3 linked regions of the Homo sapiens genome follow. The protein of the gene in region 3 interacts with the protein of the main gene of each other region in a pairwise test. Each region holds a gene or a part of one and is shown on either strand. Other genes may lie near its edges.

Region 1 (3,651 bases), on a different chromosome or scaffold from region 3:
ATTGAACTCTCATTTTGGGGGCTTGGGCACATTAACAGATTAATCCATCTGTATAGGGCTTTTGCTGTTGGATAGAATTTAAATTGTCTACATAAATATTTGTTTTAGGACCCTTAGATTTTATCTGAATACACAGATTAGGCTTTAAAAACAGATATATATGTCATTTTTGGCTTAAGGAGTTTGGCTAAGTTAGCTTTTCAACTGGCACTGTATGGCAGCATTTTTTGGTATGGTTAGCATGGCACATGGCGAAACATAAAGCATTTTACTGTACAGGTAAGGAATGTGCCATGTTGTTTTACCTATCTCTCTTTCTCTCTCACTCCCATGCACACATCCTGTGTGTATTCAGAGACCTTCAGAAACATTCATATTCATTTTCATGAGTCAGCAAAAGCCCTACGCTTGATTCCAACAGAATATTTCCTTTACATACTTTCTTCTCTTAATTTTTACAAAATTTGTATGGTAGGTGTAAAAGAAAATCATAGTAACTGTACCATATTATTAACCCCTAAATCAAACTTTTTTTGTCTTGTGTATCTTGATTTTTCTGTGTGCTTTATAGTGAAGCAGCCGACACGAGTCGTTGTTCATAAAACAGCTTTTGAAAGTTGAGAGCACACCCCTGGAGAACCGACTGTGCTTGCTTACGTTTGGTTCATGACTTAAAAATCGAGTACAGGTGATGAAATCTTGGCAGTGTTAACAAAAAAGTAGTGTGTATTGTGCTATTTTTTTTTACTCTAGAAACTTAACCATTTGTAGAGAAAAAGGAAACAAATTTTCACACATTGAAGTTCATTCTGACATAAAATTAATGATAAATAATCATAGAAATCAAGCTTTGTATTTTAGCGAACATAAGTACTTTCAACAAACTCAGGTGGTGTATCAGGGAGACATTTTCTGGGTGTTTTTGTGTGTTTTCTGTCTTAGAAAAGAATGTGTTCTAATGCAAGGATGTTTCTCTGCAGGAGTTATTCCTGATGAAGCTAAAGCTTTGTCTCTGTTGGCACCAGCTAATGCAGTGGCAGGTCTTCTGCCTGGTGGTGGACTCCTGCCTACTCCTAACCCACTTACCCAGGTACTAGTTCTATTGAATTCTTAAAGGGTGGGGAAAAAAACAGAATTGTGCATAAAGCTAAACATATTTGAACTTTGTAAGTACTCATAAGATTCTAGTTCAGATAGCATTATCACATGTCTATATCAAAATCACAAATAGTATAGAAGATCTCTTAGACTTTTGTATTTTAAGAACATTCTGAAAAATCATAAAATATCTGTTCTGTCACTTTTACCATTGGCTCTCAAAATAACCCATGAGTAGTTTTGGAACAGTCTCCTGAGGCATGAACACTTCTCTGAACACACTGTTAAAAATATATTCATTTGGACCAGGAAAGAAAACTGAAGTTAAAATTTCACAAGTGAGCCCTTCATTTTTTTTTCCTTCCCCTTTATCTTTTCCTGTTATTTGGGGGGTTTTGAATTACATAGGTGGCTTGAAAACAAAGGCAATTCTTGATGGAGATGTTTGATATGGGAATGTGAAAGAAAATTGGTTGCAATAGTGTTTCTAACACTGACAGTGCTGTACGAAGCTTATTTTAGAACTAAAAGGCACTTTAAATACTGTGTATTCTAATTACTGAGATTGTAACTGGTCAGTAGTTTCAAAGATTGTAGTGAATGAGCCTCAACTGGAAATTTATAAAAGCATTCTTTCTAGTGTATCATTTTGCCTGTCTAAATAATTGACTAATTGACTCTTAACTGTGAAGTGCACTATAGAATGAAAGATTAGGAGTTCCTAAGCTTTTTAGGTGTGACTTTTATCACTTAACTCCTAGGTTATTTCTTTTAACCTATAAAATGAGGATCTGAGTAATTTTCTTTATTCTTTGTTCTGTTTTGTTTTGTTTTTTTTTGTTTGTTTTTTGTTTTGTTTGTTTTTGTTTTTTTGAGATGGACAGAGTCTCGCCCTGTCACCCAGGCCGGAGTGCAATAGCACAGTCTCGGCTCACCGCAGTCTCCACCTCCCTGGTTCAAGCGATTCTGCCCCAGCCTCCCGAATAGCTAGGACTACAGGCATGCCACCATGCCTGACTAATTTTTGTATTTTTAGTAGGGATGGGGTTTCACCATGTTGGCCAGGCTGGTCTTGAACTCTTGGCCTCAAGTGATCTGCCCACCTTGGCCTCCCAAAGTGCTGGGATTACAGGCGTGAGCCACCGCGCCCAGTCCAGATCTGGGTAATTTTCTAAATTCCTTTAATGTATAAAGCTATGCAATAGCTATGTTGGACAGTAAGTTAAAATAGTATTAACACAGCATTTTGCCTGTTACGAATAAACAGTTAAATTATAGAAAGTTTGATAGTTTGTGTTTACTAAATAAATTGAAACAAGGAGAACTTGTAGCACAGGTGGAGAAAGTGAGGCTGTTTCAAAAGCTACAGATGGTTTTAAAGTAGCCTCACTTTCATGGTTTGTGTCTATTACATTATGGATTAATCAGAATTGGTGTCAAGCAGGTGGCAGAACCCTGCAGTGATTTGAACAGGGAACATTTAAGGAATTACTAACTAGTTATAGGAGATTACTAGGGGAACTCTAATGAATACAGGAATCACAAGTATAAGAAACAACCACTACCTCTGAGGCTGAAGCAGAAGGAACACCCATTTAGTTCAGGGGACTCCTCTTTCCCCATCTATGCTGAAACTTAGATTTGTTTTTGGAAGGGTGACTAGTAAATAAGTTCTCTTGGGTGCCCTGGGGAGCTGCATAAGGAGTTGGTATTAAAACTTACTGAGAGGCGAGGGCTACTGGGTGTTTGACATGGTGCTGCAGGAATAATCAGAAAGGGGACACAGCAACCAGGAAGAGCCCCTTTCTTAGTCAGTGTCCTTCCAGCACTCTTTCCAAATGAAGTCTTATATCATGGCAACTGTCAAAGGAGAAATGCTTTGTAAAGGTCCTGCCTCCGGTAGCACAAAACAGCAGGGCAAAGAATAGTAGATTTGGATCCTGAGAAGCAATAAATAATTAAAATCAGCACAAGAATATGTTGAAATATTTTGTCTTTTTTTCTTAATCTAGGATTTAGGGGGGAAATGTGTTGTAATGGGTGGAACATGGGTGTCATATAGAGCAAGACTCCTATTTCTGTTAATAGATTGTTATTGGACCACAGCCATTTGTTTAGGTATCGTCTCTGGCTGCTTTCAAGCTATGATGGCAGTAGTTATATGGTTTGTGTACAACTGAGGAGTTGTACGGAGACCATGTAGCCTGAAAACTCAAGTTGTTATCTGACCCTTTACATTAAAAAAGTATTAACCCCTGGTATAAGGAACTGAAATGAAGTTTTAAATAAATAAAATTTGCCATTTCACAGATTGGCGCTGTTCCACTGGCTGCTTTGGGGGCTCCTACTCTTGATCCTGCCCTTGCTGCACTTGGGCTTCCTGGAGCAAACTTGAACTCTCAGGTATACCTTAGTAACTTCAAATTTTTCACCCATTTTTACAGAAGATCTGTTTCATTAACTGTTGGTTTGCATTTCAAGAGCAGAAGCTAATGGCTATGTTGTAGTAATTTTTTTTCTTGTTTAAACTTGTCAGAGCTTTAAACAGTCACT
Region 2 (3,651 bases), on a different chromosome or scaffold from region 3:
GGAAGGGCTAACTTGTTATTGGATTTCTCTTTGCTCTGCAAATAGGATTTCACTAGAGGCAATTCTTCTAATACTTCTTCAGCCACCTGTCCTTCCTCATCTCTTTTCTTAGTAACTAAGAGTACACTGTCAGCCCACCAGAAAAGCCACACTGCTGTGATTCATTGATATTCACCTGATACTGCCCTTTCACTCTTGGATTTCTTGGTTGACCCTCCGTATTTTTTAGAGGTGAGATCTCACTATGTTACCCAGGCTGGAGTGCAGTGGCTAGTCACAGGCGCAATCATAACGTACTAAAGCCTTGAGCGCCTGTCATCCAGCGACGCTCCTGCCTCAGCCTCCCAAGTAGCTGGGACCACAGGCATGAACCACCACGCTCAGCTCTTCACTCTCCCTAATTTTGAGAAAACATACTTTTTTCCTTCTAGTAATGACCTAATAAGTTTTTTCTAATTACGAAAAAATGCACTTTTTTCCTCCTCATCATTGCTTATTGGCAACTCTCAGCCTTTTAAAGGATATTAAATAGCAGACAAAGAGGTATAAACTTGTTTGTTTGTTTGTTTGTTTGTTTGTTTTTTAGATGGAGTCTTGCCCTGTCAAGGCTGGAGTGCAGTGACGCAATCTCGGCTCACTGCTACCTCCGCCTCCCGATCTCAAGGGATCCTCCCACCTCAGCCTCCCTGGTAGCTGGGATTACAGGCGTGTACCACCACGCCTGGCTAATTTTTGTATTTTTTGTAGAGATGGGGTTTTGCCATGTTGCCTAGATTGTTCTCAAACTCCTGGGCTCAAGTGATCTGCATGCCTTGGTCTCCAAAAGTGCTGGGATTACGGTGTGAGTGACCAAGCCTGGCCCAGATTAATTTATTTAATCCTTATAATAACCCTGTGAGGTAGGCATTTTACAGTTGGGGAAACTGAGTCACAGAGTTTTCTTTTTTAGTTAGCCTGCCTAAAGTCACATGTAAGTGGCAGAACTAAGATTGGAACCAAGGCAGCCCATGCTCCTAGCCACTCTGCTATGGAGTGTGAATTTAGTATGAATAGCCATCCTTTCCCTAAAATCTGCATCTTTACTCTAGATAAACCCCTTTTTTTCTCACCACATGACCAAACGTTGCTGATTACCCTGATAACAAACTAGCCCACAGTGCTGAGCTCTCCTCCATGCCAGCATGCTGCAGCCTTTTATAATCTAACTAAATTCTAAGGTAAAGCCATAACCACCTCATTCTTCCCTGGACATGTCTAAAATAGTAAGATCATCCTCATGGAGAAATAGATCATAGGTATTAACTGGTAGTACATAAAACAAAAACAACAAAAACATTAGGCCATTGCATTTTCTGTTAATAAGAAGTTGCAGTGCCCCATTAAATTTTCTGTGTCACCAAAGCCTCCCAGTTGTAGTTACACAAAGGCAACTTTGTCTTGAGAAGGCTACTGGGAAGATGGGCCTAATCTTGGCAAGGGCTTGGTGTACCAAGAACCATGTTATTATTTTTTAATCAAATGACAACACACAAAAAGAAATATTATTTAAGCCATCTTTTCTTTTCTTTTTCTTTTTTTTTTTTTTTTTTTTTGTTGTTGTTGCCCAGGCTGGAGTGCAGTGGCGCGATCAGCTCACTGCAACCTCTGCCTCCTGGGTTCAAGCGATTCTCCTGCCTCAGCCTCCCGAGTAGCTGGGACTACAGGCACCCGCCACTATGCCTGGCTAATTTTTGTACTTTTAGTAGAGACAGGGTTTCACCCTATTGGCCAGGCTGATCTCGAACTCCTGACCTTGTGATCTACCCGCCTTGGCCTCCCAAAGTGCTGGGATTACAGACATGAGCCACCGTGCCCAGCCTAAGCCATCTTTTTAAAAGTCACAGTGCTATTATCATCACCAACTTGGAACCCTCGTTTTTGAAACACAAATGGTTTACCTGAGCTTACAAGGCTCAAATACACATTTTCAGAATAGGAATTAAATTGATCTAAGAGAAACAACACCTGAAAAAACCCTGTCCATTTTGTACTTCTGTACTTTTTGTTTTTCTTGGGGCACGTGAAATGCTTTACAAACATGATTGAGCCAGGTCTCAGTGCTCTGAAAGGTAGATACTTTTTATTATAATATTAATATGCTGACATTTCCTTGGTCAGGTACAGGCGTCCTGTTCCTGTTTCAGCTGCACAATGCCCTGCATTCATTGTACACTCACCCACTGCCCATTGGTACATATACTTAACTCTTGCTCACCCACATGTGGATTATCCATAGCGTCTGGGAACGGGTTGTCTTCCACCCCAGCTGGTGGATACTCAGGGAATATGAGCAAAACTGACAATTCATTGAAGCAAGGCACAATCAGGAGGCTCATTCAGCGTACACCCACCAGGAACCCACTGTGGTCTTCGTGCAGGGCCACCATGTTCATGAGAACCACAAATATATAGCATCCCCAAAGACAAATATCGTGATTTGGGGAGACTGGATGTTGTTTTCTTGATTAATGTGGCTGAGTGTAATCTATAAATAAAGCATACATTTTGCAGAACCAGAAATCTCCTGAGACCAAAAGATTGATATTTTCCTAAAACACAAAGGGTTTTCAGGGTTACACTAGCACTCTGTCTTCTCCCGATGTCATCTCCCTGAAATGGCCTTCAGAAAAGCAGAGATTGTGCTTTTGATTTCTAAAATGACTCCACTCTAAAAGCTTTGATAGGGTGCACCAAAAGAGCTACTATAGTCACAATCACTTTTACGTGATCAGCTTATTTATGTATTTTACTTTACAAACACATAAACCATATGCATCTAGACACACCCACAAATCGTTGTTTACATAAACTAAGTTCCTATGATGACAAAAATGGAAGATTCATAACAACCAAAAAAGATGCTCCTGTTAAATATGCAAGTTACATAAACTGAGCTGTAATTGTTTTGTTTTGTTTTTTCAGGTGTACTTAAACCACACAGAAAGTAGAGGAAAGGCAGACAGTGGGAGTATGGTTGAAGGGTTTGTGCCTTTTGTAATCAGTTTACTTTTGGTTTTACCAAGAGATGATATCTTGAATTCATTCAAACTAGTGTCTATTGCAGTACACTAGGAACATTTGAATTACAAAAGGAGAGGAGGAGCCTCCACTTCCCACAGTTGCTAGTTTACCTGCAATCCTTTGAGGGCAGTGGTAATCTCCATGTGAGCTTTCTGGTAAATTCCACACTAGGACCACATTCAGAACTTACCTGTTTCTTGGCCGTTTATTCCTCTAGACACTCTCTCCCTTTCTACTTTCGCTGGAAAATGAAAGTTTTCCTCCCCCACACCTTTTTCAGAGCAAAAGATACGAGAACCTTAAAAGCAGGTGGTCATTGACTTCAAGGGGACGAGATCGCCCTCCCCACTGCCTCTCCCCATACAGACGCTCACAGAATAGACGGGGAAGCAACTATGAGAGAAACAGAAGCAATCAGAACTCCAGCTCAGACGACCTCAGGAGTTTTACCAACAGGATGATTCAGGACCACACACAAAAAATGGCAGGGTGCCATTTCCCCCGAATCTCTCCCGCATAAGATGGAAACAACAACTTGAGGTGGCAACTGAGCAATTAGTTACTGATCATTTCTATGACAATTCTCTGAAG
Region 3 (3,651 bases):
ATGGGGCCGCAGCAGCAGGAGGGATGGAAGCTAGCCTGGGGGAAAGCCAGGGTTGGACCCCACCATCCCTCTGGCTGCCCTTCTCAGAGGGAGCTGCGCCTGCCACCCGGGAGGGCCCATGTGTCTATCATGTGGGTTCTCCCATGAGTTTGGAGTTTGGGCTTGGGACAGGGGAGACTGTGGGGTCAGCTGGCCAGGCGGCGGGGGTCATCCCCAGCGGGAATGAATGGTACGCTGGTGTTGACTGTAGTCAAGTGCCCTGTGGCACCTGGACACACCGTCTGTTCAGAAGAGGCATGAAACCTTTATTGTGGCTGTCTCTGCTCACTCATTGTTTCTGATTGGGCTATTTGAGGAACAGCCTGCCACGTTGGCCTCATTAGCATCGTGAGGCTCTTAATGGAACTGGATCCACACACGTGTACAGACACTCACAAACTCACTCAGGTACGCATGCCCGCCTGCACTAACCCCCAGAGGTCTGTGTATAGGGTTGTGCGCTCCTAAACCCCACCCCAGGTCAGACCCACCCTGACACACATGGCTTGTGACACCCATACCTTCACCCCAGTCACACTCTCACTGTCCCTTATTGGTGACTTTTCATTCACCTTGGGTGACCCACTGGCTCCAGTGGCCAAGGGCTGGCTTACTAGAGGGTGGCTGGGGGCCAGATGCCGGCAGCGGTTGGTTAAGCTTTTGGGACAGGAGGCAGCAGCATTGCCCTGGTGAGGCCACCCCCAGTGGGGCTCGACCCCCAAGCACTTTGGCTCCCCCCACGTCTCCCAGGAGAGTGTCTCTGGGTCCTGAGGCTGTCTGTCCTTGTGTAGTTCTCGTGAGCCTCTTTCTGCTTCGGCCTGTGAGTGTGTCTGGCCCTGCGCCTCCTGTGTGCTCCCCATCTGTGTCCTTTCCCCTCTCCTGACCCTGTCCTTTGTTATCTCTGTCTCTCCTCTCCACCCGTCTAGCTCTTTTTTCTGTGAGTCTTTCTATGTCTTTTCTTCTTCCTTTTTCTCTGCCTCCTCTGTCTACCCCTTCTCTCTCTGTCCCTCTCTCTCACACTCCCACTCTCAGTGTCTGACTGCGTGGCTATCTCTCTGGGTGGGTCTTTCTGTATCTTCACCTCTCTCTATATCTGCCTGTCAGTCTGGACATGTATCCCTCTGACTCTCTGCCTTAGTCTCTTGAGGAGTCTCGGCAAAAGGAGAGCCAAGAGTCCTGAAAGAAGGTGACAGCCAGGCACGGTGGCTCACGCCTGTAATACTAGCACTTTGGGAGGCTGAGGCGGGTGGATCACCTGAGGTCAGAAGTTCGAAACCAGCCTGGCCAACATGGTGAACCCCCGTCTCTACTAAAAATACAAAATTAGCTGGGCGCGGTGGCGCATGCCTGTAATCTCAGCTACTTGGGAGATTGAGGTGGGAGAATCGTTTGTACCTGGGAGGCAGAGGTTGCAGAAAGCCAAGATTGCGCCATTGCACTCCAGCCTGGGCAACAAATGTGAAACTCCATCTCAAAAAAAAAAAAAAAAGGTGATAATGCCTCCCAGGGGGCCACGATCACTTCTGGGCTCCTCCACTGCCAGGCAAGGCGGCAGGAAAGGGAATATCACGTCCTAGGGAGAGTGGATGGGCCGAGTGCAGTGGCTCACACCTGTAATCCCAGCACTTTGGGAGGCCAAGGTGGGTGGATTGCTTGAGGTCAAGGAGTTAGAGATCAGCCTGGCCAACATGGTGAAACCTCGTCTCTGCTAAAAAAGTACAAAAAATTAGCCGGGCTTGGTGATGGGTACCTTTAATCCCAGGTACTCGGGAGACTGAAGCAGGAGATTTGCCTGAGCCTGGGAGGTACAGGTTGCAGTGAGCCAACATCGTGCCACTGCACTCCAGCCTGGACGACAGAGTGAGACCCTCTCTCAAAAAAAAAAAAATAAATAAAATAAAATAAAAAGTAAAAAAAATAAAGAGCTGATGGCTCATCTCCTCTAACTCCTCTGTTGAGAACTCCGGGGTTTCGGCTCTGAACTCTGAAACTTTCTTCAGTGATGAGGCCCAGGGTCATAGGCCTGGGAGCAGGGCTGGGGGTCCAGAGTCATCACTCTGGGAGATAAGGGATAGAGCCCCTTGTCTGTCTGGTTGACCTGATTGACCTTGAACTGAGGGAAGGGTGTTGGGACTTGGAGTCTCCCTCAGAAGAGGCGTTGACCAGAGTGGGGCTGAATTGACACTTTTCTTTCTCCTGGAAGCAGTCAAGCTCAGCCCACCCACCCCGGGCCCCAGCTTCCTGCTCCAAACCACAGCTGTGCTCCCCACCCTGTTCCAAATATTTCTGCCAACTGCCCCAGGCCGAGGGGCCTGTTTAAACAGCCTCCCTGCCCTCTCCTGGCCTCCCCACCTCTGTGGCCTCCCCATCGCTCCCACGGCTTCTTGCACAGGAGCGGCTGTGTTGGCTGTTTGTTTATTGGATTAAGATTTCCTTGGGTGGGGCAAGGACTGACTCCACAGGTCCTTCTTCTCACTTTAGATGCCCAGGCTAGAGGCCAGACCCAGCTTTGGCCTTGCCCCCTGCCCTGTCCAGCCTTCCCCGGACCCCCGCCCCCCGCTCCCAGATGTCTCTCCTACATCCCAAGCCCCAGACTTCTCTACCCTTCTGATCTCAGCTCTGTTCAGTCCCGCATCTGATGCCAGCTGACCCCCTCCCCAGCCCCAAAGTTGAGTGCTCTGGCCCTGGAGGGCAGGATGGGGATGGGACACTCCCCCACTCCCTGCTGAGAGGAGAGGAAATGCCAGGAAAAGGCACTGGGAACAGGAACCCTTGGGTTTTCTAGGGGTTCCTAAAGAGGGACACATGGGGTGTGGTCTTTGGAATGTGGGAGAAGCCTGCCCACTCTCCCTGTTGGCAGAGGCTTGAGCCAGTCCTCCAGTGAGACTTTAGCAGAGGAATAATTCTCTGATGGGCTCGGGGCCCCTGTAAGAATCCATCTCCAGAACAATCTCCCTAGGACCCCAAAGGGCCTCCTATCCCCTGATTTTGTACAGAACTTTGCAGTATACAGAACTGCCTCATCCCATCCTATGAGCACCTGCAGAGATCAAAATTCTTTTTTTTTTTTGACACGAATCTCGCTTGCTCTGTTGCCCAAGCTGGAGTGCAGTGGTGCAGTCTCAGCTCACTGCAACCTCCCCCTCCCAGGTTCACAAGATTCTCGTGCCTCAGCCTCCTGAGTAGCTGGGATTACAGGCACATGCCACCATGCCCAGCTAATTTTTTGTATTTTTAGTAGAGACAGGGTTTTGCCATGTTGTCCTGGCTGGTCTCGAACTCCTGAGCTCAGGTGATCCACCCACCTCGGCCTCCCAAAGTGCTAAGATTACCGTCATGAACCTCTGGGCCTGGCTAAGATCAAAGTTCTTTTTGTAGATGATGAAAGCTCAGAGAGCAAAGGAACTTTCGCAGAATCAATCTTCTAGCAGAACCTGGACTGGAACCTGGGTCTCCTCACCCCTCACAGCCAGGGCTCCTTGCCAGACCATGCTGGAGCTGCTCCTTTGATTAAAAGAGTCACAGGCTGCAGTCACCCCTGGCTCTTCCTGAATCTCCCCCTCACCCAAAGCTCCTCTACCTTCACACACCAAGACTCCTGGTCCCTGAGTC

The links.
Region 1: the proteins of ZNF385C (region 3) and SRSF11 interact in a two-hybrid assay, tested with the Homo sapiens proteins (one large-scale study listed by BioGRID).
Region 2: the proteins of ZNF385C (region 3) and RBM47 interact in a two-hybrid assay, tested with the Homo sapiens proteins (one large-scale study listed by BioGRID).

The regions. Positions count from the first base shown.
Region 1 is NC_000001.11:70,231,288-70,234,938, forward strand, and holds part of SRSF11 (serine/arginine-rich splicing factor 11), read left to right. Parts: exon of another isoform or gene 1-823; coding exon of another isoform or gene 824-980; coding exon 981-1,090; intron 1,091-3,408; coding exon 3,409-3,501; intron 3,502-3,651. UniProt on the Homo sapiens protein: May function in pre-mRNA splicing.
Region 2 is NC_000004.12:40,623,290-40,626,940, forward strand, and holds part of RBM47 (RNA-binding protein 47), read right to left. Parts: intron 1-3,651. UniProt on the Homo sapiens protein: Single-stranded RNA-binding protein that functions in a variety of RNA processes, including alternative splicing, RNA stabilization, and RNA editing. Functions as an enzyme-substrate adapter for the cytidine deaminase APOBEC1.
Region 3 is NC_000017.11:42,091,862-42,095,512, reverse strand, and holds part of ZNF385C (zinc finger protein 385C), read left to right. Parts: intron 1-3,651.